Regions from separate parts of the Homo sapiens genome. Here regions 1, 2, 3 and 4 are each reported to be linked to region 5. The links are microRNA targets in miRTarBase. Many come from high-throughput screens and were not tested one by one. Region 5 holds a microRNA gene; each other region holds the end of a gene's coding sequence.
What was found. The annotated mature microRNA hsa-miR-193b-3p reads AACUGGCCCUCAAAGUCCCGCU and lies in region 5 at 2,801-2,822, opposite strand. An mRNA with a match to its seed (bases 2 to 7 or 8) in the 3' UTR can be bound and repressed. Matches are read on the target gene's strand: a 7mer-m8 pairs with bases 2 to 8, a 7mer-A1 pairs with bases 2 to 7 and ends in A, and an 8mer does both.

Region 1: the mRNA of SESN2 is a reported target of hsa-miR-193b-3p. Seed matches in the 3' UTR shown: 7mer-m8 at 3,143-3,149.
Region 2: the mRNA of SCLY is a reported target of hsa-miR-193b-3p. The part of its 3' UTR that is shown has no 7-base or 8-base seed match.
Region 3: the mRNA of CIAO1 is a reported target of hsa-miR-193b-3p. Seed matches in the 3' UTR shown: 7mer-m8 at 3,177-3,183.
Region 4: miRTarBase lists RAVER1 as a target of hsa-miR-193b-3p. The part of its 3' UTR that is shown has no 7-base or 8-base seed match.

What each region holds. Positions count from the first base shown.
Region 1 is chr1:28,279,238-28,285,376 of GRCh38, reverse strand. It overlaps SESN2 (sestrin 2), which reads right to left. Exons shown (of 10, transcript NM_031459.5): 9 at 6,136-6,139; 10 at 2,886-4,661. The coding sequence ends at 4,575. Among named protein-coding and RNA genes, the nearest start is that of SESN2, 23 kb to the right of the region's middle.
Region 2 is chr2:238,096,536-238,102,674 of GRCh38, reverse strand. It overlaps SCLY (selenocysteine lyase), which reads right to left. Exons shown (of 12, transcript NM_016510.7): 11 at 5,799-5,874; 12 at 3,262-4,473. The coding sequence ends at 4,320. It overlaps ESPNL (espin like), which reads right to left and starts at 2,335. Exons shown (of 9, transcript NM_194312.4): 1 at 1,962-2,335; 2 at 544-734. The coding sequence starts at 2,255. UBE2F-SCLY (UBE2F-SCLY readthrough (NMD candidate)) reads right to left here. Exons shown (of 19, transcript NR_037904.1): 18 at 5,799-5,874; 19 at 3,262-4,473. RefSeq lists enhancers at 1-127, 3,893-4,187, 3,822-4,490, 4,491-5,158, 5,159-5,827 and 1 more.
Region 3 is chr2:96,270,338-96,276,476 of GRCh38, reverse strand. It overlaps CIAO1 (cytosolic iron-sulfur assembly component 1), which reads right to left. Exons shown (of 7, transcript NM_004804.3): 7 at 2,304-5,366. The coding sequence ends at 5,126. It overlaps SNRNP200 (small nuclear ribonucleoprotein U5 subunit 200), which reads left to right. Exons shown (of 45, transcript NM_014014.5): 44 at 1,128-1,220; 45 at 1,322-2,139. The coding sequence ends at 1,465. Among named protein-coding and RNA genes, the nearest start is that of CIAO1, 7.2 kb to the right of the region's middle.
Region 4 is chr19:10,313,478-10,319,616 of GRCh38, reverse strand. It overlaps RAVER1 (ribonucleoprotein, PTB binding 1), which reads left to right. Exons shown (of 13, transcript NM_133452.3): 10 at 377-451; 11 at 1,245-1,388; 12 at 1,844-1,927; 13 at 2,017-3,405. The coding sequence ends at 2,163. It overlaps FDX2 (ferredoxin 2), which reads left to right and starts at 3,602. Exons shown (of 5, transcript NM_001397406.1): 1 at 3,602-3,765; 2 at 3,858-3,912; 3 at 4,125-4,231. The coding sequence starts at 3,621. FDX2-ZGLP1 (FDX2-ZGLP1 readthrough) reads left to right here and starts at 3,602. Exons shown (of 9, transcript NR_176052.1): 1 at 3,602-3,765; 2 at 3,858-3,912; 3 at 4,064-4,231. RefSeq lists silencers at 2,523-2,714, 3,848-3,967.
Region 5 is chr16:14,300,700-14,306,838 of GRCh38, reverse strand. MIR193B (microRNA 193b) reads right to left here and starts at 2,872; the gene lies at 2,790-2,872. MIR193BHG (MIR193b-365a host gene) reads right to left here and starts at 5,458. Exons shown (of 2, transcript NR_170633.1): 1 at 5,308-5,458. RefSeq lists an enhancer at 1-369 and silencers at 2,732-2,781, 3,735-3,974, 3,880-4,040, 4,325-4,814.

The DNA.
Region 1 (6,139 bases), not on the chromosome of region 5:
CGCTGGGATTACGGGCGCCCACCACGACACCTGGCTAATTTTTGTATTTTGAGTAGAGACGGGGTTTCACCATGTTGGTCAGGCTGGTTTTGAATTCCTGACCTCAAATGATCCGCCTGCCTCGGCCTCCCAAAGTGCTGGGATTATGGGTGTCAGCCATCAGGTCCAGCCTAATAAACATGATTTTTTTTTTCTTTTTTTTGAGAGGAGTCTCCCTTTGTCGCCCAGGCTGGAGTGCAGTGGCGCAATCTTGGCTCACTGCAAGCTCCGCCTCCTGGGTTCACGCCATTCTCCTGCCTACAGGCTGGGACTGTAGTCCAGCCTACGTGGCATGCATTGAGTGTGACTGTTGCCAAATGTTTTCAAATTTAATCTCGCAATCTTCGCAACAACCGTGTGAGGAAAGGGTCTGTTCCCATTCTATAGATGTGGAAATGGAACCTCAAATGAGAATCTGGGGAACACCAATTTAACAGACAGACCCAAATTCAAATTCCAGCTTTGACATTTAATATCAGTCTGATCATGAGCAAGTTGCTTCAATACTCCCTCCTCAATTTCCTTATCTGTGGGATGGAATTAATACCTAAGGTTACAGGAGGGTTGTGAGGATTAAATAATACTGGGTAGCTGGGATTACAGGTGCCCGCCACCACGCCCGGCTAATTTTTTTTTTTTTTTTTTTTTTTTTTTTTTGTATTTTCAGTACAGTTGGGGTTTCACCGTGTTAGCCAGGATGGTCTGGATCTCCTGACCTCGTGATCCACCCGCCTTGGCCTCCCAAAGTGCTGGGATTACAGGCGTAAGCCACCGTGCCCAGCCATTATTTTTTTTTAAATGCATATTGAGGATTTAGGCACTTTGGAGACAAAAATAATGCAATACAGGGTTGGGCATGGTGGCTCATACCTGTAATCCCAGCACTTTGGGAGGCTGAGGCGGGCAGATCGCTTGAGCCCAGGAGTTCAAGACCACCCTCGGTAACATGGCAAAGGAGTTCAAGACCACCCTTGGCAACATGGGGAGGCTGGGGCAGGAGAATCACTTGAACCTGGGGAGGTTGCTGTGAACCGAGATCACACCAATGCACTCCAGCTCCATCTCAAAAAGAAAAAAAAAAAAGCAATACAAAGAACTCTGGAATCAGAATGAGAAGGATTCAAATTCTACCTCAGTCGCATGAGCTTGGGCAAATTTCTGAATCCTGAACAGCTTGCGAATGCTAGATGCCAGGTACCTGAACTGTGCTAGGTGGTTTTTATGCATTATTTAATCCTCACAACCCTCTTGTAACCTTAGGTATTAATTCCATCCCATAGATAAGGAAATTGAGGAGGGAGTATTGAAGCAACTTGCTCATGATCGGACAGACATTAAATGTCAAAGCTGGAATTTGAATTTGGGTCTGTCTGTTAAATTGGTGTTCCCCAGATTCTCATTTGAGGTTCCATTTCCACATCTATAGGATGGGAACAGACCCTTTCCTCACAGGGTTGTTGTGAAGATTGGGAGATTAAATTTGAAAACATTTGGCAACAGTCACACTCAATGCATGCCACATAGGCTGGGCGCAGTGGCTCATGCCTGTAATCCCAGCACTTTGGGAGGCTGAGGCACGTGGATCACTTGAGCTCAGGAGTTCCAGACCAGCTTGGCCAACATGGTGAAATCCTGTCTCTACTAAAAATACCGAAATTGGCCGGGCGTGATGGTATGTGCCTGTAATCCCAGCTACTAGGAAGGCTGAGGTGGGAGAATTGCTAGAACCTGGGAGATGGAGGTTGCAGTTGAGCCGAGATTGTGACACTGCACTCCAGCCTGGGTGACAGAGCGAGACTCCATCTCAAACAAACACCCAATGCATGCCAACTGGAAAAGAAATGGAAAACTTTTATCCCCATTTCTATGGCTGAGGAAACTTGAGGCACAGGGAAATTAATCAATCTCCCCAGCGATATAGTGAGTGGCTCAATCAGAACCAGAATCCAGGTTTTGTACTCCAAGTGTGATTCACTTTCTCCCACACCCTCTCAAATGACTCTAGAGGAAGGGGAAGTGTATAGGAATCCTGCGAAAATGAACAGATACCTCAAGGGGAAGGGGAACACAAAGTCCACTAGGGGAGGCTGCCTGGAAGAGACCTAGTGTTCTGACAGCGGTATTTATAGGAAGTAGGAAGCCCGCGGGAGTGGTCTTAGCTCTTACATGATGTGGTTTTCCTGGTAAGCTAACTAGTTCCTGGTACCCAGAGAAGTTAAGAAGCTTGACCAAGGTCACACAGCCATAAACGGCACTGGCACAGCTTGGGGGTTGCACCTCTTTGTTCCTGGCGTTGTCTCCTTGGTGCTGGAGGCGGTAGGATGAGAAGCAGGTAATCATAATGTGGTGGGGTTGGGGACACAAGGGGGTCCTTCCAGATTCAAACAGCCTCTTTGTCACAGGGGAAGTCCAGTAGTGGGCAAAACAGCAAGGTAAAATGTCAAGGCCTCAGGGTCAAGCAGAGCAGGGGGGAATCCTGGCTCCCCCACCGATTAGCCATGTGGCCTCAACAACGTCAGTTCACCCGTCTCAATTCTCCTACAGGATTGCTGCAAATTCAGAGGAATGGTCTCCAAGTACCCAGCCCATGGCCAGGCTTAGAAAAACACCATGGTCATTATTACTCCACAGTGCCAGGGCAGCCGCAGAAGGGTGACAGGACTGGATGTCCAAGGGACAAGTAGACTTTCAGTGCCAACAGTCCCAACCTACAATCACTGGGCACAAGTTCTCGGCAGGGCAGGGGCTATCAGGTCAGGCCCATGATGCAATCACAGCTCTCTGCCTATGCTACAAGGTGAACCATGACCTTCAGGAAATTGAAAGAACAGCCCATAAAAAGGGAGTATGAAACAAAACCTCAGCGAACGTTTATTTCTCATCATATGGAACTGGTAGCAAAGCCAAAGATTTCTGCACTTGAACACTGGATACCACTCCCTACCCACCCAGTGAACATTTACAGTCATCACATGCCCTCTAGAACCCAGATCCCCATGCCGGGGCCTCTTCTCTCCTGCACACCTTCTTGCAGGGAGGGCTTTCAGGCCGGAAGGGGGTGCCGGTTGCTTCTCCGCGCCTGCACGGGTATTTAATGTGGCACACTGGCCAGGCTCCTCTCCTGCCCCGCCCAGCAGCAGCACGGCCCTTGCCTTTCTTCAGTGCCCTCCAAACTGGTCAGAGAGGAGGCACAGACTGCTAGAAGAAGGGCAAGAGAAGTCGTAATTCACAGTCATTTGCTACAGAAAGTGCCTGGAATCGGTCCTTGGCTGCTTCTGCCTGGAAGCAACCCACTTAAGCCCCAGGAGAGGGGACAGATGAGATACTGGGATGGGGGTGGGAGTCCTCAGAAGGCACCCAGGAGACACTGGCTGCAGAAATGGGGTCCCTGATCTTGCAAGAAAATCCGCTTGCTGTTGGCAGGTTGGCCTGAGAATCCCAGGGGCAGCTTCAGACATTGTGGGGACTCAGACCCACCCTCTCAGTCTGCAGCTGTGGCAGTCAGAGGTTTGGCAATGTAGCCATGGTCACCTGGCCATGGCCCAGGGGCAGGGTCCAAACAAGAACCCTGGTGCCTCCCGCCCCTCCTGCTGAGCCATGGTGCCACCTAAGCCATCTAGAAAGGCTCAACTTTTTGGGAGACATCTGCGGCAGGGCCACTGGAGGCAGGAGAGTGGGGTGCTGGCCTCTGCGAGGCAGGTGCAGCTCTGGGAGAACAGAATTCTCCCTCTCCTCCTCCTCTCACACACTGTGGCTCCAGGTTGGAACCTCAAGCATAAAGGACCAAAATAAAGAGGATTTATAATCTAATACTCCCTCCTCTTCAGAAGGCAATGTGACCAGCAAAGGCTCAAACTCTCTAGAGATAATCTGCTTTTTTTTTTTTTATGTACTTGGCCTCTCTCCTGACGCCTCACACCATTAAGCATGGAGAAAAGGGAAAAAGGGCAAAGGAAGTCAAAAAACTGAACTAGGATTCGGGCAACAGCCTCAGGCTGCCCAACAGAACAGGCTTTTAGGGAACTGGACACACAGACCAGCTGTGACCCTGACTTTCACATTGATGGGTGAATGGCAAGTAGGAGGTAATGAAATCTGGAAATGACAGGGGAGAGAAGGCAAAGCTGCCTGGAGTGTCAGTCCCGGAGGCATTTGCCCCTCTCCCCCGGGGGCCAGCCAGGGACTTCCCAGTTCAGGAAGGCCACAACACTTGTGGCACATTAATTCCGAGCTTGGCCCGGCTTCTTTCCTGTGCCCTCTGCCTCTGTGGGCAGGGGAAGGAGGAAGGGTGTGGTCCCTTAGGATCTCCAAGTGCTCTTCCAGCTCCCAGGAGCAGGGCTGAGATCCCAGAGTCAGTGCAATGAACTGTCCATTCCAGTGAGGAAAAGGGAGGGTGTGGCTTCGGGACTGCACATCACACACAAGCCCACTGCAGCGTGGGGAGGGTGGGCATGGGACACAAAAGGGTCTGGGGCTGTCTCCAGACAGAGAAGTCCTTGTGGGGAGCTGAACCGGGCCCAGGTCCTGCTCAGGAGTCAGGTCATGTAGCGGGTGATGGCACGGAGGGCGTACAGCAGAGCGGCTTGCATGCGCGCCTCCAGGAGCAGCAAGTTCACGTGGACCTGGGGCACAGAGGAAGGCATGTTGGCAACTGATGTCACTCCTCACCCCCACACCCCTCCCAGACTGCCTTGATCCCTGACCCACTTACCTCACCATTTCCTTTCCTACAGAGCTGCCCCAGCATCTGCTAAGGCTCTGAGCAGTTTAGTACAAGGACAAGCACATTCATTCCTATCATGACTAAGCTCTGTATTCCCTAAAGGTAAAATGGCCAGGTGCGGTGGCTCACGCCTGTAATCCCAACACTTTGGGAGGCCAAGGCGAGTGGATCAGGAGGTCAGGAGTTCGAGACCAGCCTGGCCAACATAGTGAAACCCCATCTCTACTAAAAATACAAAAAGTTAGCTGGGCATGGTGGTGGATGCCTGTAATCCCAGCTACTTGGAAAGCTGAGGCAGGAGAATTACTTGAACCCGGGAGACAGAGGTTGCAGAGGTTTATGTACATTTTTTTATTTTATCTTCCCAGCAACCTTGAAATACAGCAGTATTTATTCCCATTATAAAAATGAAATCCCAGCTACTTGGGAGGCTGAGGTGAGAGGATCACTTGAGTCCAGAAGTTCAAATACAGCCTGGACAATATAGTGTGACCCCATCACAAAAACAAAAAACTTTGAGAGGCTGAGGCAGGAGGATCATTTGAACTCAGGAGGTTGAGACCAGGATGGACAACACAGTGAGACCTTATCTCTACTAGGAATTTAAAAAATCAGGTGGTGTGTACCTCAGGCCCTCTGGGGGCTGAGTTGGGAGGACACTTGAGCCTAGGAAGTGGAGGCTGCAGCGAGCCGAAATCACACCGCTGCGCTCCAGCCTGGGCAACAGAGCAAGACTCTGTCTCAAAAAAAAAACAGGATAAAAAGCTCAGAGAGGCCAGGCACGATGACTCACACCTGTAATCTCAGCACTTTGGAAGTCCGAGACAGGTGGATCACAAGGTCAGATCAAGACCATCCTGGCTAACACAGTGAAACCCCGTCTCTACTAAAAATACAAAAAATTAGCTGGGGATGGTGGCACACGCCTGTAGTCCCAGCTACTCAGGAGGCTGAGGCAGGAGAATCGCTTGAACTTGGGAGGTGGAAGTTGCAGTGAGCCAAGATCGTGCCACTGCACTCCAGCCTGGGCAACAAAGGGAGACTCATCTCAAAAAAAAAAACAAAAAAACTCAGCGAGATAATGTGACTTGCCGAAAGTCACACTGCTATCAAGAGATAGTGTTATGATTTGAACCCAGGTCCACCAAGCTACCACTAATGTGAAGCAGGCACCCTCATTCCCATTTTACAGGTGAGTAAACAGACTCTGAAATCACACAGTGGAATAGGACTTCAATCCAGAGGAATAGGCCCAGGTGTCCCACCTAGCAGGACAGACTCAGTCTGGGGACTCTCACTGGGTCCTAACCCCTTGCCCTCTCCACTGGCTTGGCCTGTCTACTTCCATCCTGCCCTGCCTGTATAGGTCATACCTTC
Region 2 (6,139 bases), not on the chromosome of region 5:
TCCTCGTTGCCCATCCACTAATTCCAGCAGGGGGCACAGGGCCCCAGAGACGATGAGGCCAGCGCCCGGCTCTAGGGGTCCCAGCACAGGGGTGGGGCAGTGCAGAGGCAGCTCCAGCCTCTGTGTCCCCAAGTCCACTAGACAGTCCCCACTCCTGTCAGGTGATGGGAGGGTGCCCTCACAGGTTGCCAGCTGCCCACGTCCCCAGCTGTTTTAGGTCCCGAGATGCCCCCAGGTGGGGCCAGAGCTGCCCTGGGCATCACAGCAGCATCTTGCCATCGTCACCGCCCCCAGCCACTCTCCAAGCTGAAGCACTGGCCTGTGTCCCCTTGGGCCCTGGCATGGCACTGCCACTGCCTGGCCTGTGGGTAGAGGCCTCATTGCCCTTGGCTCCTGCCAGCTCACCCCCACAGTGACAGCATGCCCGCCTGCAGGATTCACCTCAAAGGCCACCAGCCTGTCCTCTTGGCCCTCCATGGTGCAGCCTCCCCTTGGCCAGCTCGCCCCAGGCTGCCCCCCCAGGCGGGACTTTGGGCTCCTTACCTGCCATGCGCGGCTGTCAGGAGCTTGAGGCAGGTCAGGTCCCCACTGACGGCAGCGTGGTGCAGCGGCCGGGCTCCCTCCCGGGTCTCTAGCGTGGCCGAGTGGCCCTCGTGGAGCAGCCACTCCACCAGCACTGGGTGTCCAAAACGGGCGGCCAGGTGCAGCGGGGAGACGCCCGAGGCATCTTGGTCCTACCAAGCCCCGGGTAGGTCAGTGAGTGGGGGGTAGGCCGTGAGGTCAGAGCCAGCTGCCGGAGGTGGGCCCTGGGCGAGGGCTCACACTGCCTGCAACCCAGTGAAGGGGCTTCCAGCTCCTTCCTCCTTCCCTCCGTTTCTGCCTGCAACATGGAGGGAGGTGCTCCCTGCTGGGACTGAGGTGAGAGGAGGGCCAGGACTCAGGTCCAGGTCTTGGGAGGCCACCTCTGGCAACCCTGCCCTCTCCTGGGCCCGTCCCCAGTGTGGAGAAGGCCCTTTCCCACGCAGTCGGGTGCCCGCAGACACCTGCCCACTCTGCTCATGGTCAGAAAGGCTTCCCAGGACACCTACCTCTGGCTGGTCCCCTGCCCCAGTGCCCTCCCGCTGGCCACAGGGTCCCGGGGCCAGGGAGCGTTCCTACCACAGGTGTCAGGGGTCCAGCAGACCTGGGCCTTCTCCAAGGGCCCTGTCAGAATGGATCCCCAGGCAGGCACAGCTCCCGCCTGCTGCCCTTGGGTTTGGCGGAAGGGCCGACAGGAACAGGATGCTGGGCCGGGACTCTCAGGTGCTCTGGCGAGCCAGGTGCTGGGGAACCTTCCCGCTCCGCAGTCTAAGCAGGCCCCACCGGCCCCCACCTCAACTCTGACCTCTGGGCGGCGGCGTTCTAAGGCCGGTCAGTCCTGCTCACCCTCAGCCCTGAAAGCTCCACAGGGCTGAGCGACAGCTCTAAGGGCCTCGCCTGCACAAAGGGGACTGGGCAGGCAGGATAGGGGAGGGGGGCCCAGTAGAAACGATCCGGACAAGACGATCACCATCAGCAGCCCTAACTCCCGTCCCCCAGGGCTAGGCTCCCAGCTCTCAAGCCCAAGTTCCCACAGTGCTTCTGTAAGGATCCCTTTCTAGACCCTTTGGGAGGCAGGCCCTGTGGACCAGGCCTGATCAGAGACAGGGGTCCTGATATCTGGCAAGACCCCCACTGGCAACGCCCAGCTTCCTGGCAGGGAAGGTGATAAGAAAATTTAGGAGGTGTTCTTGGCTCTCAAGCCTTTGTGCTCTGAGAGGCGTGGGGCAGAGACGGTAACCACTGACTGAGTCCCCAAGAGAAACAAAGGGCCCAGGGCCATGGAGCCCGGGGTGGCCAGTACTCTGATCCTCCGTGGCTCACACCTCCCTGGTTCCACCCCAGCCAGCTTCGTGGAGCCAGGCTGCCCCATCCCCGCTCACCTGCAGACCGCAGCCCCCCTCGCGGACCAGCCAGCACAGCTCGGCCAGGCTGCCCGTGGCAGCGGCGTCATGCGCTGGGGTGGCCCCGTTGTGGGCCCGCTGGTTGCCGGGCAGCTGGGCCCGCTGCACCAAGAACTTGACGCAGTCCAGGTGGCCAGCCCGGGTGGCGTGGTGAACCAGGCCGGCCCCCAGAGCATCGGTGATGCCCGGGCCCAGGGCGCCAGCCTCCAGCAGCCGCTCCAACGTCGCCACATCCCCATCCTTGGCGGCCACGAGTGCCCGCTGCTTCTCCATCCTCTGGCCCGGGCTCTCAGTGGCGACTCATGCACAGGCTGGGGCTTCCTGTTTCAGACGTGGATGAAGCTGCCGGCTCTGGTTACCCGATAAGCTGCCACAGGGCAGATGGGAGGCGGTGGGGTGGGGTCGGGTGGGGGGACAGGCCTTGAGGACCTGCCCAAGCCACTCCCACAGTGTGAGGGTGCCAGGTGCCTGGAGCTGGGAGGATGGAGTACAGGGCACAGGGAAAGGCCCACACCAGGCTAGGTCAGGGCTGGGTATGGCCAGCAGAGAAAGGAGGCTGGCCCTGAGGCTGCTCAGATCTGTCCAGATGGCAGGAACTTCATCTGTGGAGCGAGGGCTGAGGATACACGCCACTGAGCTTCTCACAGGAGCCCCGAGTGGCCTGGGAGACAGTTCCCCCAACTCTCACAGAAGGGCAGACCCCCAGCCGCCACCACAGTGTGTCTGAAGTAAAGGGTGCCCAGTAGGTCTACATGTTTGGCTGTGTTGACACCCACAGAGCTGAGCGCCCCGCCTCTGGGTCCCGGCCCTCGGCCCTGGAGGCTCCTAGGAATCTCTGGGGACACAGTGGCTCCACGGGGCCTGCAATGGGCTCAGGACCCTGACTTGGGTGTGTCCAGGCCTCTGAGGCGAGAAGGTGTCAGCCCCTGCCTCGGCCCCCTCTCCAACTACACGGACCAAGTCTCTGGGCTGCAGCCCCAAGGGCCCAAGTACATTTAACCCCTTTCCAGATTGTTCTGGACAATCCATAGTTCTTCTTTAGGGAAGTCAGGACCACCACAGCCTCTTCCTGGCAGCAATGGGAAGCTGCAGATGGGGGACCCATTACATTTGTAGGGGCTTCCGGAGACACAGCCTCAAGCTGGATTTCTGGGCTAACGCATCATCACACAATGGTGACCTGGGGGCTGCTGCACCCCTGGCTTCCCCCCGACAGGCTCTGTCAGATGACTTTGTGCCCAAGCGCAGTGCCCACTAGAGAAACCACAGGATCCCCAAGTCGGGCACTGAAATCTTTTATTCGTTAATTTAGTTTCTGGCAAGTGTTTCCTCAAAATCATCAAGTAGTTCCTTGAACCGTAAAACCACACATTAAAAATGTTATTCCACTGAAAATGACTCCTATGCAAATATCGACATGTGATGTGTGTCCAAATGCCAGAGCATTTTGAGAAAAGAATCCTCTGCAAATAAAATTAAGGTAAAAGCTGAGTCAGGGATGATCCGATTCCCACCCCAGGAATGACCTGGAGCTGCACCAACTCAGCGAGGTTGGAGCTGAAACCCTGAGTTAATAATGATCAAAAGGGACAAGACAGGAAGGCCTGGGGACCGTGGACAGGGAAGTGCGCAGCCCTGATTGCCAGTGGGCGGAACAGGGTCAGGCTCGGGGAAGCAGGAGGGGTGGTGGGCGGTGGGCGCTGAGCAGAGCAGGCCTGGCCGAGGCTGGGGGCCACTGTGCACTGAGGCCAGAGGAGCAGGGTGGTGGGGGCAGCTTTGGAAAGGGACTAAAAAGGGCCTGAGAAGAGACCACTCTGGAAAGGTGCATGTAGAGGCCATGATCAAAACAAAAAAATCAAGTTTCCTACGTTCATGATAGCATTTGGCTGACAATGAGTTATAAATACTTGGATTCTATCTTCCAGATAAAAACACCTTCCAGGAAAGGGCACTCACAACAGGCGTGCCCAGTTCCCAGTGGGGAGGGTGGATAAAGCTAAGTGTTTCCGCTTCACCACTGGAGGACGGTTCTATGTGGGCGGTCCCATGTGGGCGGTCCCATGTGGGCGGTCCCATGTGGGCGGTCCTATGTGGGCGGTCCTATGTGGGCGGTCCCATGTGGGCAGTCCTATGCGGCGTTGGTGTCCTGGGCCCTGTGAGCTCTGCAGGGGTCCAGGGAAGGAAACTGGGGGTGCACACTCGCTGGCACTCCAGGACAAAATGCAGAGGGGGCATGAGACAGTCATCCTGGCACAGCCCTCAGGAGGGAACTGGAGGGACAACCCTGTGCCCTGCCACGGGCTTCCCAGAAGCGGGGTGGGGAAGGCGGCCCCAGTGCTAGGCCTGGTCCTCCAGCTGCGCCACGGCCTGCTTCAGGTCCTGCACGACGAGGTCCACCTCGGCCCTGGTGGTGCTGCGGCCCACGCTGAGCCGGAGCGCGTTCCTGGCCACGTCGAAGGGGACACCGTAGCTCAGCAGCACTGGGGACGGCCTGGGGAGGGCGAGACCGAGCTGCAGCTGCTGCTGAGGGCACATGGAAGAGACACAGCCCCCCCTGCTCTGGACCACTCCCCTAGTGGGGCTCTGCCCACCCGGATGTGCGCCTGCCTCGCCTGGCATCCACCTCCTGCTAAACTCCCAGACCAAGCACACCCCTAAGATCACCCACATCAAGGTGTGGCTCAAAGTCGCCCCCGTTCTCCCTGCAGAGTTCTCTTGCACTTGGCACTCCCAGGTGACACTGCCTCCCTCTCGCACTGAGCTCTGGGGCCAGGGGCTCTCCTGTCCTTGAGGGGTCTGAGGTCCTGGAGAACACGGATGCCGACACAGACAGTGCCTTACCCATGCGGCCCACCTGAGCCACTTGGTAACTTCATGGCACCTAGCATGGGGCTTTGCAGACACTAGGGACCCAGTCAGTATCTAGCCATGAACAGATGACTGCGTGGGGACATCCTGAAGCAAGGCTGTTGGAGGCTCGAGATGTGGGCTCTGTCAAGGGGCCTGACCTCATCACACCCGGGTCCCTTTCCTCCCCTGCCCCTCCTGCAGCAGGGCACTGTCCCCCCAACAAAGGGCCCCATCCTGCCCCTCCTTTTCCCTGGAGCCAGGCCCACCACTGTCTCGCTCCAGGTGCTCCTGCACAATCCCTCTGCCCTGACCTTGATGGCCACGTGCTGCTGGCTACAGTTCCGCTCTCTCCCCAGAACCCTGAGTGTTCCTCCTGCGTCCACTCCGACCTCCCACAGGGGCCTCACGTTTTCAGCAGACCAGACCCAGAACCACTTCTCCCCTGCTGCCAGCAGGCCGCTGCTCGGGCACCCCACGCCCTCTACCCCACAGTCTCCGCCAGGCAGCCCACCCGCTCACCCGGGCCCTGCTATCTGAGAATCTCTGCTGCATCTTGCAGATGGCTGATCTGACACCTGAGTCTGCTCACACCATGGCCCTCAGGGCTCCCACTTCCATGAGGTTTAAGTAAGCACTGACACTCAGGCCATCCCCACCCCAGCCCACCCCAGCCCGCCCCAGCCCTCCCCAGCCCCGGCCACGCTGGCCCTCCAGGCCCTGCCCTCCCTCCGCCTTCAGAACTGAGCACGAGAAGCCCTCTTCTCCCGCACAAGTCCTAGTCCTTCAGATGGCAGCTTGGAAGTCACTTCTTCCAGGAAGCCCTCCCTCTGCCCCTCCTAGGGCCCAGACAGGGCTGTCCTTCACCAGCCAGAGTGCGGCCCAGTGGCCGGATCCTGCCGCCTGCCCACCACACCCAGTGCCCGGAGGACCCCTATGCCCTGGACTGGGTTTGTGAAGAGCACTTACTGGTCCCCGTGGTCCGAGTGGCACGCGGCCCCCACACTGGCCATCAGCACTCGGCACTGCGCAAGCACCACGTGGCCTGCGGAGACAGAGCACATGCCCCTGAGATGGGGCTCCAGCCAGGTTGCCCTTCTGTCCCTTCCCGGGGTCCTGCTGGGCGCAGGCTGCTTCCCTCCCTCTGTGCCACCTGGTGGAATTCCAGCACTGGCCATTCTGGCAGCTGGGGAGAGATCTCACAGCAGGAGCCGAAGAAAACGCTTCCTTTCTCCCTTGGCTGCACAAACGCAGACACTATTCTGCCTCACAAAGCTGGCCTTGAAAATCGCATTTGTAATCAACTGCCT
Region 3 (6,139 bases), not on the chromosome of region 5:
GCACACCAGCCCAGGCGAGTGTGAGACTTCATCTCAAAAAAAAAAAAAAAAAAAAATTTAGATGACTGGTCATTGTTAAACCCGTCAGTTGTGTAGTATTGTCCATCTCTCTGACTCTTTAAGATGCATTTGTCTTTAACTCCGATGGCTGCAGGACACTTGGGCTTTCCTGGTTGTTTCTTCTTTTTTCTCACTGCCACTTACTGTGCTTCTGGGTGCTTGGTTTTTTACCACCAGAAAGAAATTCTGGTTCTCTTTATATGGGAGAATAATTGAAGGTTGATAGCAGAAACCAGATACTGTCATGTTTAATTCTGTAAACTAATTGTTTCAAGGCTCTGAGTAAAGACTGCTTTTAACTGGGACTCTTCGTCTTTGTGACAGCGGGGCAGCCCGTAGACAGGGCTGCAAGGCCTGCTGTGGATATCTCTGTGCACATTCAGCTCTGTGTTAAGCTTTTTCTTTTTTTTTGAGACGGAGTCTCGCTCTGTCGCCCAGGCTGGACTGCAGTGGCGCGATCTCGGCTCACTGCAAGCTCCGCCTCCCGGAATCACGCCATCCTCCTGCCTCAGCCTCCCGAGTAGCTGGGACTACAGGCACCCGCCACCATGCCCGGCTAATTTCTTTTTTGTATTTTTGGTAGAGACGGAGTTTCACCATGTTAGCCAGTATGGTCTCGATCTCCTGGCCTCGTGATCCACCCGCCTCGGCCTCCCAAAGTGCTGGGATTACAGGCGTGAGCCACCGCGCCCAGCCTAAGCTTTTTCTCATCTGGCAGATTTGCCTTGTACTTAAAAGTATCTCTAAGGAACTCAAAGCTCCTAGGCCCCAAAGACTAGACCTCTAATAGTAGTACCTTGGACTTAGTGGCAGGTACTAAGTGGGAGAAGGTACCTTGGCACAAGGAAATGAGCCAGAACCAACAAATGAATTCATCTACTTAAAAAATTAAGTCTGTTTGAGACAACTTTTGATAGTATTAAAATGTTAAATCTAATTGTATTTCGGGAAGAAACTTTGGAAAGCTATCTGATTTTTGTTCTCTCTTTTGTAACTGTACCATTTTCATGGTTGCCTATGGTCATCAAGTTTTACATGCTGAAATTCTTGGTTTTGGATCACTGCAGAAACGTGAAGAGGGCTGGTGGGTGGTGATTGGAGATGCCAAGTCCAATAGCCTCATCTCCATCAAGAGGCTGACCTTGCAGCAGAAGGCCAAGGTGAGTGTGTCCACTGGCCCTAGCATTTGTTCTGGCATGGGGGAAGGGTGAGAATGCTTCCTGTGTCCATGCTCATCTTGATTTCTGCCTGCTCTTTCTAGGTGAAGTTGGACTTTGTGGCCCCAGCCACTGGTGCCCACAACTACACTCTGTACTTCATGAGTGACGCTTACATGGGATGTGACCAGGAGTACAAATTCAGCGTGGATGTGAAAGAAGCTGAGACAGACAGTGATTCAGATTGAGTCCTGAGGCATTTACTTTTGGGTAAAGGAGAGTTGAGCCTGAATTAGGAATGTGTACATTGTAGGAATCCTGGTTGTGGGGACCAGGTCTGTGGGCCTCAGGTCTGGCCAGCCAGGGCTGGTGCTGTCCCCGCCTACCTCCACTTCCTTTCCCTTGCTCACTCTGGATCCAGTGACAGCAGGTGTCATGGGTCAAGCATAAATCATATATAGCATTTTCAGGCATGTTCCTGGTAGTTCTTTTGAGTCTGACATTCTAATAAAATAATTTGTAGAAACCATTTGTCTTTGTAGTGATTCCAAATTAAAAGTTTTCTTTCTCCAACCTGAGGGCACGGCCAAAAAGATCTGGTTATTTTTTAGCCAGGAACGTGCTTGTTAATGAGTATGTCTGGAGGACAGACCTGCTCATTAGGTGTGCTGTCCCCTGTAGCCTCGTGAGTCAGCCCAGAGGAGGGTACATGCGACTGTGGCCTGGCCTCAGTGGTACCCACACATCAGCACTACCACAAGAACCAACACTGAGCCTCGGAAGCTAGATCACAGGTTAGGGGTTTCTCTAGATGGGGGTTCTGAAATTTGCAGTGTCTGCTCCTGGGAGGCAGCACCAGAAAGGGCACTGAAATGTACTAGCTGGATGTGACCCAGTCTTAATAAACAGGTTTTCTAATCCAGATCTTCCGACTGTCTTCAAATTCTTACCTTCTGTTCTTTAGATTAAATGCACACAAAATTGAAAGATGATTCTGAAGGGCAGTTTCCTCAGGGTAGCAGTTTTCAAATGATTTGGTCTTAGGACCTCTTTACACTACTAAAAACTAAGAAACTCAGGTTTTTGTTTTTTTTTTTTTCTTTTTAAATAACAAATTTATTTTTCACAGTTCTGGAGGTTGCCCCAAAAAGCTTTTATTATCTAGATTAAGGTTAATGCACTTTTAAATCATAATGTTAACATTTTTTTTCTTAATAGAGACAGAGTTTAGCCATGTTGCCCAGGCTGACCTTGAATTCCTGAGCTCAAGTGATCCGCCCACCTCAGCCTCCCAGAGTGCTGGGATTACAGGCATGAGCCACCATGCCCAGCCCACGTTAACATTTTTTATGAAGAATAACTTCCAAAACAATCCAAGGAGAAGGGTGGCATTTTACAGTCTCTTTAGTATCTTGTTATAATAAACAGTTGAATTCTTACAGCTGCTTCTACATCCAAACTTTTTTGTTGAAGTAAGTTGACTTCACACAGATACGCAGTTGGAAAAGTTTTTAAAATAGCCTTTTCAGCTAATTGTGGCTATTCTTTGATACCACACCAAGACTACAAGTGATTTTTTTTTTTTTTTTTTTTTTTTGAAATGGAGTCTCGCTCTGTCACCCAGGCTGGAGTCCAGTGGCACGATCTCGACTCACTGCAACCTCCACCTCCCGGGTTCAAGCTATTCTCCTGCCTCAGCCTCCCGAGTAGCTGGGACTACAAGGGATCTGCCACCACGCCCGGCTAATTTTTGTAATTTTAGTAGAGACGGACTTTCACCATATTGGCCAGGCTGGTCTTGAACTCCTGACCTTGTGATCCACCCACCTTGGCCTCCCAAAGTGTTGGGATTACAGGCGTGAGCCACCGCGCCCGGCTTACTACAAGTCATAGTTTCTTAAAGGCAATGTAGACTCCGAAAACTTAATGCACTCTTATATTGTTAATACATTAAAATCCACTGGCCTGTCTTACACTTTTGAATCAATCTTTGAGCCATGCATGATTTTGTAACATCACGTACTGGTCACTTGGAAAAATGGTTCATTGAATTCTTCCAAATGAAATGCATTTCATTATACAAATCACATTTGTTAATATCCCCAACAATAAAGCTCATGGTGGAGTACAGATTTTCGGAAATTCCAATTTTTGCTTGAAAGCTTTATCACTGGCAACACTATCAGTTGTTTCCCTTGAGGTGAGAGGCTCATTCCATTAATTTCCAGAAAATATCAGCCAAATATTCAAGTCTAAATACCGTAATCTGCTAGTTCTTTCAATTCTAAAGGGCATGCCTTGAACACAGCCAATTCAGCTTGCAACTCAACTGTGTAACTGCTTTTCCTCAAGGCACCCATACTTCAGTGCACAGCAGAGGGGCTTTATGCATGCTTCCAGTTTTCTCAGAATATTATAAATTCTCAAGGTCAACTTTTTTTTTCTTTTTGAGACAGGGTTTCACTCTTGTTGCCTGGGCTGGAGTGCAATGGTATGATCTCGGCTCACTGCAACCTCCACCTACCGGATTCAAGCGATTCTCTTGCCTCAGCCTCCCGAGTAGCTGGAATTACAGGCATGCACCACCATGCCCAGCTAATTTTGTATTTTTAGAAGAGACGGGGTTTCTCCATGTTGGTCAGGCTGGCCTCGAACTCCCGACCTCAGGTGATCCGCCCGCCTCAGCCTCCCAAAGTGCTGGGATTACAGGCATGAGCCACTGCGCTGGCTAGGTCAACATTTAATAGTTAACCATTGCTATTTGTTCTATCAAGGACATATCAAAACTACTAGAAGTTTGCTGCCACCACCTTGATTCATGCCACAGTGCCAACAGTTGACCTCACAGATCCTCCCTGAAAGGGTCTTGGGACTCCCAGGATCTGCAGGCCGCATTCTTCGAGAACCACTATTCTAGGTACAGCCCCACTGTCCTTCTAAAATCTAAGGTCACAGCTTAAACTTCAGGGAAGGCTGTAGTTTTGGAGGCCATTGTCACATTAGAACCCATTTAGAAGTGACTGTCAAGAGACAACTTGAGTGAGTCTGAAACTGCCTGCTGATGGCAGTGTTTCTCAACTGGTTTAAATCGCCAGTCCCCTAGGAAGCCTTCTTCCTGATCACTCCCTGCCATGAAAATGGAATATCACAGACACACTATATGTGCTGTGGGCCTTAGGAGGGCCACAAACAACTGCTTGTGATTTTTTTTTATCCTTACTGAAGAACCAATTTGCATCCCTGTTGAGAATACAGGGCTTGTGGCCAGTAATAACTCTCCCTTTTAGGATTCCTGTCTTTCCCCATTTTTTTTCTATCCCCAGTTGCCATCACAGCGTAACGGTGCAGGGAGGTATATGAGGGTTGCTAAGGGAAAGCAGAGGTGCCCCTCACTCAAACCTACATTCAGAAAAAAATTTCCTTCATTATTGATTGGATGTCTTAAATGCAAAGACTTACACAGAAACTGGGAAGGGAGGACCTATTTCAGACAAGGATTCACCATGGAATTTTTATGAATATCCTTATAAAATAGGACTTGGGATGCAGATGGATTATTTCTTTAAGTCTTGCAACTTCAGAAAAGCCTGAGACACATACCCCCTCCTACTATATATAGTGATTATAAATAGTATATTTACCTCCAAAAAATTTAACACTGTGCCCTAATGCAAGAAAAATCTGTGGTATAACAATGTACTCATGTTCTGTAGCTCTTTACTGAAGGCCTCATGTCAAAGGCGGGGAAGGAAAGCAATTCTGTGGCTCTGCACTTCTACCCAAGTCTGAAGAGAAGTGAGCCAAGTTAAATGAAGGTCAAGGATGCTCCTCCTGGTCCTCTCAGGGGCTGGTAAAGTCTTATATGACGTTTTCTGGGGAGTCATTACTCTGTCCAAAGTCGAGGTAGCTCAGAGGCCTTCAGGCCGCTGATACTTCCAGAAGGCCACCTCCCCATCATCACTGCAGGAGGCCAGTAGCCCTGGCTCCTTGGGGTTCCAGGCCACACAGTTGACATCCTGGGAATGGGCCTGATGCAAGTGGGCTGTCAGGGAGAAGGTGGGCTGCTGTGGATCCGAGTTGGGATCCTCCTGAAACACGCGGATCGCGTCATCCCCACAAGCTGTGGCCAGAGCCCCTGTCAGCTGACACCTGGAAGGAAAGTGACATCAGTGGGTATACCTGACTAATTAGGCCAGAGAGACCTGTTCCATAGTTCCTGGCCTGTTCTCTTCCCTAACTTCAGGCCTCAGCTAAAAACCTCTTATTAAAATGTTTCCTTAACTAATAAGGAGTCACAAATATCACCCACTTATATCTTCAGATGCTGCAATCTAGTTCTTTCCCCTACTATGATTATCCTAAAAAACGACATGCAATTATGAACTGCACTTTCCTCACTTGGCATAAGCAGTTTCCCATGTCATAAAGTTGTTTTTTTTTTTTTTTTTTTGAGATGGAGTCTTGCTGTGTCGCCCAGGCTGGAGTGCAGTGGCACAATCTTGGCTGACTGCAACCTCCCCCTCCCAGGTTCAAGCGATTCTCCTGCCTCAGCCTCCTGAGTAGCTGGGACTACAGGCATGTGCCACCATGCCCGGCTAATTTTTGTATTTTCAGTAGAGACAGGGTTTTATCACATTGGACAGGCTGGTCTCAAACTCCAGACCTCAAGTGATCCACCTGCCTCAGCCTCCCAAAGTGCTGGGATTACAGGCCATGAGCCACTGGGCCCAGCCATCATAAAGTTTTTTTTTTTTTTCTTTAGATGGAGTCTTGCTCCATCACCAGGCTGGAGTGCAGTGGCGCAATCTCGGCTCACTGCAACCTCCGCCTCCCGGGTTCAAGCGATTCTCCTGCCTCAGCCTCTGAGTAGCTGGGATTGGGTGCGTGCCAACACGCCCAGCTAATTTTTGTATTTTTAGTAG
Region 4 (6,139 bases), not on the chromosome of region 5:
GAGCAAAACTCCGTTTAAAAAAAAAAAAGAAAGAAATTGCAAACTGGCCGCCCACAGGTCACCTGGGTGATGTTTGGCCCCCTCTGTGTTTCAAACAAATAACAACAGGAACTAACGCCAACACAGGAAAACTGCAAGAGTCCACACAGCTCGAATTCCCAGCTTGCCTGGGAAACTCCAAACACTTAGGCCCATGGGGGGCACCCCCCTTCACAGCAGCCATCCCTGCCAAGCTGCATCCAGCCCCAAATTTGCCTCTTCCTGGTCCCAGAGTGGTGGGGACTGTCTTCCCTGATGACAGCTCTGCCATGGAGTTCAGCCAGGGGTGAGGCTGGGACAGACTCCAACCCAATGTGCTTCTCCCGCTTTCATTCAGGACATGGGACCTCGGCGGCTCTTCTCCCACCCACGGGAACCAGCCCTTGGGCCTCACGGACCCAGCCGACACAAGGTAAGAGCCACCTGGTATGGCATGTGTAGCAATCAGCTTTTACTACATGACAGGCTGTGCCATGACTTAGTAGCCTGGAACAGCAGACCTTGTATTTTGTGTGTTCTTTGTGGGTTTTTTTAAGACAGGATCTCACTGTGTTGCCCAGGCTGGAGTGCAGTGGCTCCATGATAGCTCACTGTGGCCTCAAACTCCTGGGCTCAAGCAATCCTCCCACTTTGGCCTCCCAAAGTGCTAGGATCACAGGCATGAGCCACCATACCATGCCAGGCATTGTATTACTTCTTGCCACTCTATGGGGCAGTGGGCGGTCCCCGGCACTCACCTGGGTCTCAGTGAGCTATGTGGCCTCACATATTTGGCGTCCACAGGCTGGAACAGTTTCTGTGTGCCCATTCGTGCGGTGATGATCCCTGGGTTCCTGGAGGAGGAAGAGGAGGCGGGTACCCACGTGCCAGCTCTCCTCAGTCCTATTAGCCAAAGCTAGTCTTTGCAAAGCCCAGAACTGCCGGGCATGGTGGCTCACGCCTGTAATCCCAGCACTTTGGGAGGCCGAGGTGGGCGGATCACCTGAGGTCGTGAGTGTGAGACCAGTCTGACCAACATGGAGAAACCCCGTCTCTACTAAAAATACAAAAAATTAGCTGGGCATGGTGGCGCATGCCTGTAATCCCAGCTACTCGGGAGGCTGAGGCAGGAGAATCGCTTGAACCTGGGAGGCAGAGGGAAGATTGTATACAAAGGGCTGGGTACTACAATTGTCTGCTTCACTCCACCGGCCCTTCTTCTACAGATGTCCCCCCCGCCCAGTGGCTTCGGCGAACGGAGCAGCGGTGGGAGTGGCGGGGGCCCCCTGTCTCACTTCTATTCAGGCTCGCCCACTTCCTACTTCACCAGCGGCCTGCAGGCTGGCCTCAAGCAGAGCCACCTCAGTAAGGTGAGGAACCTCTCTGGCCAAGCACAGGCCCCCTGGGACAGCTAGGATTTGGGGGTGCCTGCCACCGGGGCTCTGTAACCCTCGGTGCCCAGGCCAAAGCTGGGGTGGTGGCAGGGGTTGGTCTTGCTCAGGGTGGAGTAGCAACAGCCTATTGTCCTCCATCCACTCTGCATCAAGCACCTAGCACTGCCAGCATTCCGGGCTTTCTGTCACTTCCTCTCTCTACAGCCCAGGCTGTGGGTGCTACTGGCCCCATCTGACAGATGAGAAAACCGAGGCTCAAATAAAATGGAGCAATTGGCCCTAGGTCTTATAGCTAGAAAGTAGCAGAAGCAAGATTTGAACCTGAAACTGTTCGCTTTCCCTCAGGGCTGGGGGGCAGTGGCAGGGGGGCGGGGTGGGTGCTTCCTCTGGCCCCCAGGGAGTGACCTGTTCCACCTCTCCATTTCTCCCAGGCAATCGGCTCTTCCCCGCTGGGGTCCGGAGAAGGGCTCCTGGGCCTCAGCCCCGGGCCTAATGGTCACAGCCACCTGCTGAAGGTACGGGCAGGGGGTGGGGACATGCAGGGCTGGGAAGCCCCGGCCCCCCAGCGGCCCCTGACCCGCCCCGCCCTGCCCTCTGTCTCCAGACCCCACTGGGCGGCCAGAAACGCAGCTTTGCCCACCTGCTGCCCTCGCCCGAGCCCAGCCCAGAAGGCAGCTATGTGGGCCAGCACTCCCAGGGCCTCGGCGGCCACTACGCGGACTCCTACCTGAAGCGGAAGAGGATTTTCTAAGTGGCTGGCACCAGAGATAACTCAAGGGCCTGCACCAAATCGCTTTTGGGTTTTCTGATGTTTTGTTTTGTGTTTTTTTTAAACCATTTTCTCTCTTTCGGTAATAGAAAAATCTCTGAAAGACTTTACTGACCAATCAGCCGGAGCCCCAGGAGCCCAAGGGGTGTGGGGGAGTCTGGAGGCCTCATTATGTCTCTGGCTTGCTCCCCACGCTGAAACCCTGCAGCCTTAAGAGAGAGGGGCCCCGGCCTGCTCTCCCTCCCTCCCCCCATCTCCTCCTCCGCTGTGCCCGTCTCTCCGGAGCCCTCCTGCCTCATTGCTCCTGTAATTTTGGCCTTTCGAGTGCCTTGGAGGTTTCCCTGACCTCCCGTGAAGATACAGAGACTGTCTCCTTTTTTTTTAACTTTGACAACTGACTTCTGTTTCCTTTTCTAAGTTTTATTTTTCAAACCACCCCGGACAGCCCCCAGCTCTGATTCCTTCAAGGCCCGGCCTGTCCGGGCCACCATTCCACACCTTGCGGTTTGAAACAGCTGTTTTTCCCACATTTGCTGCAGGCATGGCTGTCTCCTGCCCCTGCCTGCCCATCTGGCCTATACCCCAGCCGTGGGGCCCGGGGTCCCTGCCGCAGCCCCCTCCCCTTCTGATGCCTTAAAAGCTGGGCCCCAGGCCCTGCTGGCCAGAGCCACAGATGCCAAGCTCTGGGAGCTTGACTATGGACCAAACAGCTCTGGCCTAGGGATTGGGCCACCCTACCCAGGATCTCCACCCTGGGGACAGTAGAAGGGGAAAGCCTTCATCTTGGCGAACCGGCCCCACCACCCCCTCCTACCCGGGCCTCCGTGCAGAGATGGGCTTTCTCTGCCAGTCCCCTGCTGTCTGTCTGTGGGAGTCGGACATTGTGCCCATCTCCCGGAGCCTCTGCTGTCACTCGCTTGTTGAAGATGAATTCTTGAATTCTGCCTGCCCACCCCCGGCCAGATCCCTGGAGCTGGCCTCCTTCCAGCCCAGTGCCAGAAACCAGCACTCCATGAAGATAAACTCTGGGCCCGCCCACCAGCAGGACCTGTCGACCTGAGGTGACCCTGGGCCTTGCCCCCAGCCAACTGGGCCACCAGCTTCCCTCCCTTGACTCTGGGGGTCCACATCCACTCCAAGGGGACTATTCCCCCGACCCCACCCCAGTCTCCCCACACGGACCTTTGCTGAATTAAAGTTTGTAAGTAAATGGTTTTAAAGAAATCAGAGTTGGCTGGTTCTTGGGACAAACAGTGGGCTTGAGTGGGAGGTCTGGGATGGCCCCGCGGGTTTACCTGAGATGGATTCCGCCCTGCTCTTCCCACCTGGTCACCGCAGGCCCTAAGCAAACATCTGCGCTTATGTTCCATTGATTATGGGCTTTCCCTCGCCTCCCTGGCGCGGCGCATGCTCAGTCGGTGAGTCACGTGATGCATGTCATGGCCGCCTCCATGGCCCGGGGAGGCGTGAGTGCCAGGGTTCTACTGCAGGCTGCCAGGGGCACCTGGTGGAACAGACCTGGGGGCACTTCCGGGTCGGGGGAGGGGGTGGCGCTGGGGACAACCAGAAAGTTTCAAGCGACAGGTACCTGGGGCGCCCGGGGCGGGCAGCGTTAATCCGTCAGATGCCGGCGGGGCGGGGCTCGGCGCAGCCGCTCACCGAACCGTGTTTTCCAGGCTCGCGCCCGGCTGGAGAGGAGGACGCGGGCGGCCCGGAGCGGCCCGGGGACGTGTGAGTGCAGGGGGCCAAGTCCCCCATTCCTCATCCCACGGAATTCCTCTGGTCCCCATCTTGCCCTGTAGCTTCATCTCGAGGTCCCCCTTCTGCTTTGCCCTATTCAGTACCTGTGCGTCAAGCCTCAATTCCTACTTCCTAACCCTAGATTCTACCCGGGCCCTGAGCCCATCATCCAGTTCGGCATTCGCACTTCCATCTGTCCCCAGGGTGAACGTGGTGTTCGTAGACCGCTCAGGCCAGCGGATCCCAGTGAGTGGCAGAGTCGGGGACAATGTTCTTCACCTGGCCCAGCGCCACGGGGTGGACCTGGAAGGTAGGAACCGGGCAGAGGGAATTAAGGAGGTCCTTATACATTTGTCCAAAAAAAAAAAAAAAAAAACCCACAAATTAGGTGTGTCTCTTCACGTCTTTTTCCCACCAAATATGGACTAAAATCCAAACCCCTCACCATGGCCTCATCTGTTGCCAAGCTCTTATTTGTTAAGCATTTATTAGAGATCACTAGGACTCCTGGCTCCCAGGATTTTGTGTTCTCTTCCCCCTTCCTCCCTGTATTCTAGCCACATTGGCTTTCTTTTTGTTGTTGTTGTTTTGAGATGGAGTTTCACTCTTGTTGCCCAGGCTGGAGTGCAATGGCTTACTGCACCTCAGCTCACTGCAACCTCCACCTCCCGGGTTCAAGCGTTTCTCCTGCCCCAGCCTCCAGACTAGCTGGGATTACAGGCGCCCACCACCAAGCCCAGCTAATTTTTGTATTTTTAGTAGAGACGGGGTTTCACCACATTGGCCAGGCTGGTCTCAAACTCCTGAAAGGTGATCCACCCGCCTCAGCCTCCCAAAATGCTGGGATTACAGGCATGAGCCACCGCGCCCAGCCCACACTGGCTTTCTTGTGGTTCCTCAAACAACCAAGCTCATTCCTGCTTCGGGGCCTTTACATTTGCTGTTCCCTCTGTCTGAAGTGCTTTCCCAGCAAACATTCTGGCTCTTTCTCATCCTTCAGACCTCAGTGTAAATGTCATGTCCCTAACAATCCCATTCCCCTCAGCCCAGCTGAAGTACCCATGCCCTAGTTACTCTGTCTTATCAGTGTGATATGATATATAGCACTTCTCACTTTTTTTTTTTCAAGAGACGGAGCCTTGCTGTGTCGCCAATGCTGGAGTGCCATGATGCAATCATACCTCACTGCAGCCTTGAACTCCTGGGTTCAAGTGATCCTCCCACCTCAGCCTCCCAAGTAGCTGGGATTATAGGCACAAGCCACAATGCCAGGCTGTTTTGTTTCCTACTTTGTCATCTGTCCCCCAGTGAGATTGGTGACCCATGTCCTTATTCATGCTTATCTGTTGCCTGTCAAGATGTAACAGATGTTTGATAATTTGTTGAGAGAAAAATAATAATAGAAATTTCTTGTCCAGGCACAGTGGCTCATGCCTGTAATCCCAACACTTTGGGAGGCCGAGGCAGGCGACTCACTTGAGGACAGGAGTTTGAGACTAGTCTGGCCAACATGGCGAAACCCTGTCTCTACAAGAAACACAAAAATTAGCTGGGCGTGGTGGCACATGCATATAATCCCAGCTACTTGGGAGGCTGAGGCACAAGAATCACTTGAACTTGGGAGGCAGAGGTTGCAGTGAGCCAAGATGGCACCACTGCACTCCAGGCTGCATGACAGAGCGGGACTCTGTCTCAAACAAACAAAAAAAAAAGGCCAGGCGCGGTGGCTCACGCCTGTAATCCCAGCACTTTGGGAGGCCGAGGCGGGCGGATCACGAGGTCAGGAGATAGAGACCATCCTGGCTAAAATGGTGAAACCCCGTCTCTAATAAAAATACAAAAAATTAGGTGGGCGTGGTGGTGGGCGCCTGTAGTCCCAGCTACTCGGGAGGCTGAGGCAGGAGAATGGCATGAACCCGGGAGGTGGAGCTTGCAGTGAGCCAAGATCACGCCACTGCACTCCAGCCTGGGCGACAGAGTGAGACTGTCTCAAAAAAAAAAAAAAAAAAAAAAAAAAAAAAAAATATATATATATATATATATATGTCTTTAACCATGTTAATAAATATTCACTGACTGAATCTTCATGACAACTTGAGTAGTAGAGACTGTTATTCCCTATTATAGATGAGGCAACTAAACCCCAGGTTAAGTAGACCTGGTCTAAGGGCAAGTGAGTGACAATACTAGACTCACCAGTCCATTGTAGCCACTAATC
Region 5 (6,139 bases):
GTAAACTCAGACGGATGATATAAAATCAGAAACCTTATTTTAAAGCTTGGTAAATATGTGCATATGTCCCCTACAACTGGGGACGCTGGAAAGGCAGCATCTGAACACTGGCTGCTTTGAAAAGAGGTCATGAGAAGGGCAGAAGGGGTCAGCTGGGCATGGGGTGATGGAGGGAACCCCAAGTCCACTCCTAAATTCTTTCAACGTCCATCTCTTTCCCTGAAAAGTCGGCTTGGCTACTAGGCCTGAAAAGTATGTTGTTTATATCATGTTTGTGAGCGTCAGGGTTTATTTTCACCTGCTCCAGATACAAGAAGCAAAAAGAACTCTACATTTTTCTGTGTTTGGGGTGCTCAGGCGAGAAAGAAAATGCCTGCTTAAAGTAACTGATCAGCAATGTTTTGTTTGTACACGCACTTTATTCTGGTGAGTGATTTTAAGTACCAAGTTTGCCTTAACTTTTCACTGCACTCATTTTTATCCTCATGGCTAAAATAGCTGTATTTGCTCCACAATCAAAATTAAAGGAGGGTGAGCTGATCGTTAGGAGGCTATAGTTGATCTGGCAAGAATTTCCATCTTTCTGTTCATAACGTTAAGTTGGGGGGTTGCTGGGAAGGGAAACAGAGAGAGTGTTCCCTTGGAGGGACTTTTCCAACTTTCATTGGTTTGAATCACCAACATATATTTTATTTTTAAGGAAGTATCATATTCATTGCAGAACCACCTCTAAATATTTTACTCCTGGCCATACCGTATTCTTTTCTATTGAAACATCTTTTTTGCCTCTCTGAGATCAGCTATGGCTTGGGGATTGCTAAGAACAAAATTCAAAGTTGCTTGTTTTTTGTTTTTTTTTTTCTTAAATCCACACTTCTTTGGGGGTTAGCGGGGGTGGGGAGGGAACAGCAACTGCTTAATGAAGTTTCTCACACAGAGGCAAAAAGAGAAAAGCCAAAATATATTCAGTGTATCCAGCAGTTCCATGCTGAATTTTTTTTTTCCTTATTGGTTGAGGGGGGTGTGTAGGAGGGTGGTGGGAAGGATCTGAAAAGAAGCTGTGATTCTTTGCTGAATTAATGATGACTTCTCACTGCAAAATGCTGATTTATAATCTCTTCACCATACTAGACTGTTTCCAGACTCAGAGGGGGGTTAAAGTTTGTTAAATGTATTCATAATTACATGCACAGTTTCAGACGGCTGAATATAAGTAATGCTTGTGCTGTTGCGAATGCTCACCATTAAAGCAGAAATTGTTTCACATTTAGCACTAAATTCTGTCTGATTTTGCACACTTAACAATTCAGTAATTTTAACATTCGGCTTCGTCGCCTCCATTATAGCTCAGTATCTTGGAGAAACAGTCAGTGTTCCGGCCTCGTTAATTCATGTAAAACACCCTATTTGTAGAAGTATCATTAAAGGCTAATTTGATGAGATATCCTTATTTAGCAAAGCAAATAGGATTTGACAGTCAGCTCCGGGTGGCGATTTAGCAAAGCACAAACACAATTCACAACGTGACAATTTCCCATCCACGCGCCTCGCTGGAATTGTGGACTCCTGAAAATTGTGCTGTTTCATCGTGTCCCATACTAAAGAGAAAGAACTCTGGAAGTAAAGAACTGTTTTTGCCAAGGCAGCACAAATGTCATCTGTGTGTACATGTGCCATGTCTTTCAAATCCTAAATCTTGTATCAAGAACGCTGTGTTCAAAGGTTTTTTCCAGGTACAGCTCACTTTTCTATTCCCTGCTATGTAGACTTAATTTAAATCTAGACTTGCAAATAACTTAGGATGTGTGAAAGTCTATATAGGTTACAACTATATAGGGTGTGTGTGTGTGTGTGTGTACACACAACTGAAGGTTAATGTTCTGCGACGGGGATTTATACACACTACCCTTGCTTTAGAGACTTCCCCTGAACGTATTATCCAGCCTTCTATAAAACGCCTGGCTGGGTGCAGTGGCTCATGCCTGTAATCCCAGCACTTTGGGAGGCTGAGGTGGGCGGATCACGAGGTCAGGAGATCGAGACCATCCTGGCTAACACGGTGAAACCCCGTCTCTACTAAAAATACAAAAAAATTAGCCGGGCGTGGTGGCGGGCGCCTGTAATCCCAGCTACTCGGGAGGCTGAGGCAGGAGAATCGCCTGAACCCGGGAAGCAGAGGTTGCAGTGAGCCAAGATCGCGCCACTGCACTCCAGCCTGGTCAGAGCCTGGACAGAGCGAGATTCTGTCCCCAAAAAACAAACAAACAAACAAACAAAACAAAACAGAACAAAAAGAACGCCTTCAACAGCAAAGAGTTGCAAAGAAATGTTGCAATTCCAGGTGGAAGCAAACAGCTGGTTTCTCCTAATTTAGCAAACGTAAAGACAAATCTAATGTCGTTACAATTCATCATTTCAGGAGCGCCTTATTTGGGGGCTTCAAACACTTTGCCACAATTGACATCCTACTAATTCCTTTCCAATCCAATACTGTCCCTTAAACCACTGTGGGGGTGGTCAGGGGGAATGTACTTTCTCCTCCTTGTATCGTTTTTCGGCCTCCCAAGGAGAGAAGCCCTTGGAAAACACAGTAGGTTCGGCAAACTGAGAACACACACTTATAAGAATACCGCCCTCGAAGGGACCTTTTAGTTTTATGGAAAGTAGCAAACCTCCCCCTCTTTCCCCGCCCCCCCGCCAGCCGGGTTTTGGACGCGCTCCCTGGGGGTGGTAGCTCTCTGCCCTCACCCTCCCGAGACTGCCGGGGCCTGAGTCCCTCGCTGTCCAGAATGACCCCAAAAGCGGGACTTTGAGGGCCAGTTGGATAAAACATAAACTCATCTCGCCCTCAAAACCCCGATTCTGAGACCACAGCCTCCAAAAGCCTCTTTTCCCAAGAAGTGAGTCCCCATTCACGGCTGACAGCACCGGGGCAGGCCGCCTTTGAGGCAAGAGTTTGGAGAACCGGGATCACTGAAGGAATCGTTACTGGGTGTTCCCTCAGGGCGGCGGTTCATCTCACCAAAATGCCAGGGGGTCGCTGTGGGAGGAGGGGACATTTGCCACACCATGGCTGAGGGCAAGAGGATCGCTTGATCCCGGGGTGTCTCTTCCCTCCCGGAGCAATCACCAATCTCGCCCAGCAAACAGGCCTAAAAGCTTCCCGGACAACACGAGGGGTGCCCCAAACGTCCCTTAGCAGCGGATAAATCGGGTGTCCGAGGTGCCTCGTACAGTTCCCCCCACCCCATCTCCAGCTAAATAAAGTTTGGTTATTTGTGTCCTTAATCGTCTCTCATTAAAGTCAAATTTGCTGCGCGCCCAAGTTGGGGGAAATGATTTCCATTTTAATAGCTTAATTAGCCTCTAGGTTCTGGAAAGGCCACTCCCCCACGCACCTTTTCTCCTCATTTTAACCCCCCTCCCTTTTTCACAACTTCTCCTAAAAATAAATTATAAATATGGATGTGTCCTCAGAGGACATAAGCGGCGCATTCCAACGCTCCGCTTGGTGGGGATTGGAAGCAAAGAGAAACCAGAAACGCCACTCCCCCCACCCCCAAATCAAAATGCCTTTTTCTTTTTTTTTCTAACTTCTTTTTCCTAACTTGGTGTTGTCTCGGGCACAGACACCCCGCTCCGCACCCCGGAACCTAGTTTTTTTGCCCCCGTCCTGCAGAAGCTAAAGCCAACGCGCCAGGGCTGCCTGCTTCTCGGGGGGAGGGAGCTGACAACTTTAGGGGGCGGCGGTAACTCTCTGGGGACGGTGGTTCCCGGCTAGTCCGGGATCCCCGGGGCCCGGCCCCCGCAGGCGCCGCCGCCCATGCCAGCGGGGCTCGGGCGCACGTGGAGCGGCGGGCGCGGCCGGCCTGCTCCGCGCGCGGCATTGAGATCGGGGTCACGCAGCGAGTCAGTTTCCCGAGCGGGCTTTCCGGGGTGGGGGCGGGGACGCGGACGCTCCACCGCCTCGTCAATTTCCAAGCCCAGGCACTAGGGAGGCTGGGGGCGGCCTCGCCCCCTTCCTACCTCCCGGCTTCACACGCCCCTCTGGGGAGCGGGGGAGGGGTCCGAGGGGGAGCCGGGGTGGCGGCAGCGGCGGCAATCGCAGCCCAGACAAGCGTCTCGCGCCGAGTCCCGAGAGAACCGCGCGCTCCCCCGCCGCCACCTCCCCTCTCCCGTTCCCATCCACCCCGCAGACAGCCGCCCCACACCCCTTCGGCCCTGGGGGCTTGGGCACCCACCTGCCGCGATCCCTGCCTTGGCTGGCGGAAGGTGCCAGGCGGGAAGAAGGGGAGCACTCACCGCCGCTGCCGCCTCCGGGGGTGCACGGGCCCCCCCACCCAGGGCTGCGCCTTCCCGGGCTCCGGGCAGGCGTGCGCCGGGCGGGGGGCGCCCCGCGGGCCCTGCAGCCTCCGCCTCGATTGGAGCCCAGCCTTAAATCCTCCACCGTGGAGAAGAAGGGTACTTCCAGAAAAAAAATCCGCCCCTCCCCAGACGAGATCCAAGTGATGGGCGGGGAGCGTAGAAAATCCTTTTCTGCAGAGAGCGCGCAGCCGACGGGGCTGCACCCGGCCTCCACGGTCCGCTGCCGCCACAAAGCCGCGCCCCCGCCCCCCCCAACCCCCCAGCGCCCTATGGCCGGCCCGGGGCGGGGGCTGGGCCGGCCCGGGGTTGGCCGCGCTGGGGAGGCGGCGGCGGCAGCGGCCCAGGCGGCGGGGCGGCTCCTCCCCGGCCAGGCAGAGAGGGCGAGAGCCTGGAAGCCTAGCGCGCCCGCCCGGGTGGGGGTGGGGGTGGGGGTGGGGGTGGGGGTGGGGGCGGGGGCCGGGGTGGGGGGGCGCCTTCCTAGAAACGCTCGCCAAATATAGTCAGCGGATAGGGGCATTCCTAGAAATGCGGCGGCGACGTCAGCCTCGACCCTGGGGGCGGGGGGCAGAGCCCGGGGTGCTTCAAACAGGGGGCACGGAGGAGGGGGAAAGAGTCCCCACTTCCAGTACCACCGCAGCCCACAGACGGAACCGAGGCCGGGCTTCCCTCCCGAGGGGCGTGCTGGAGTCCTCCAAAGGCGCTTGAGGTATCCGGGAGCTAGGGGCGCATCCACTGAAGATTCAGACCCGGTCTGTCCCCCTCTTTCGGGAACACCCAGTGCCAATGCCAGCTGGCGCTTTTGGCCCTTCCCCCAATTTTCAGCACCCCCCGCTTCCCCCGCCGCACAAACACACACAACCCCCGTGAACAAACAGTAAAAGTAGGAGCAGCATCAGGCAGGTTCCCCAAGCCTCTTACACCCACCCCATGACGGTCTCTCACCTCCTCTGGAATGGCTGGAGTCCCCTGGATCCCCCAGGGTTGAAATTGCACAGACACACTGTGTTCCCAAGAACTCCCCCAAATACCAACCCAGCTTCGGGCCAGAAAATAAAGTTGTGCTTCCTCCTCCCCAGTCCAATGTCACTTTGTTGCTGCTTCCGGGGCTAAGGGCTCTTGGAGAGGTGCTGGAACTTGGGGGTAGGGCACAAGGGTGTCCCCTCCACCTGGCAAAGATCTGGCCTCTGGTGCTGACACTCTCACCAGCCATAGCTGTAATACTTTTCATTTCCCGCAGTAAGGGAGATGCCCCCCCCCAGCAGCTCATCCCCTTCCTAAAATCTTCCCCCACCCCCACACCCCTGCCCAGGGACCCCCAAATCCATTGCAGAAGTGGCCCCTCTTTCGCAAAGAGAATCCACATAACTGAGACATGACTTGTCCCTCTCCACCGCCCAGCCTCTCTGCGCGAAAACGTGACTGGCCTGAACCTCCCAGGATCATAAAAAATGTATTTTGCTGTCCTCTGTTGGCCAACACAGGTCACGCTCATAAAACACACCACCCAACTTAGCGGGCAGTCCTGATGCCACAGAGGAGGTCCCAGGGACCCCAGCCAAGGGGAGCGAGCTGGCCTCCTCTCCTTCTGCCTGTGGTGTCCCTGCCCTCTCCATCCTCTTTCTTTCTTTTTCTTTTTTTTTTTTTTGTTTGAGACAGAGTTTCACTCCTCTTGCCCAGACTGGAGGGCAGTGGCGCGATCTCGGCTCACTGCAACCTCTATCTCCCAGGTGTAGGCGATTCTCCTGCCTCAGCCTCCAGAGTAACTGGGATTACA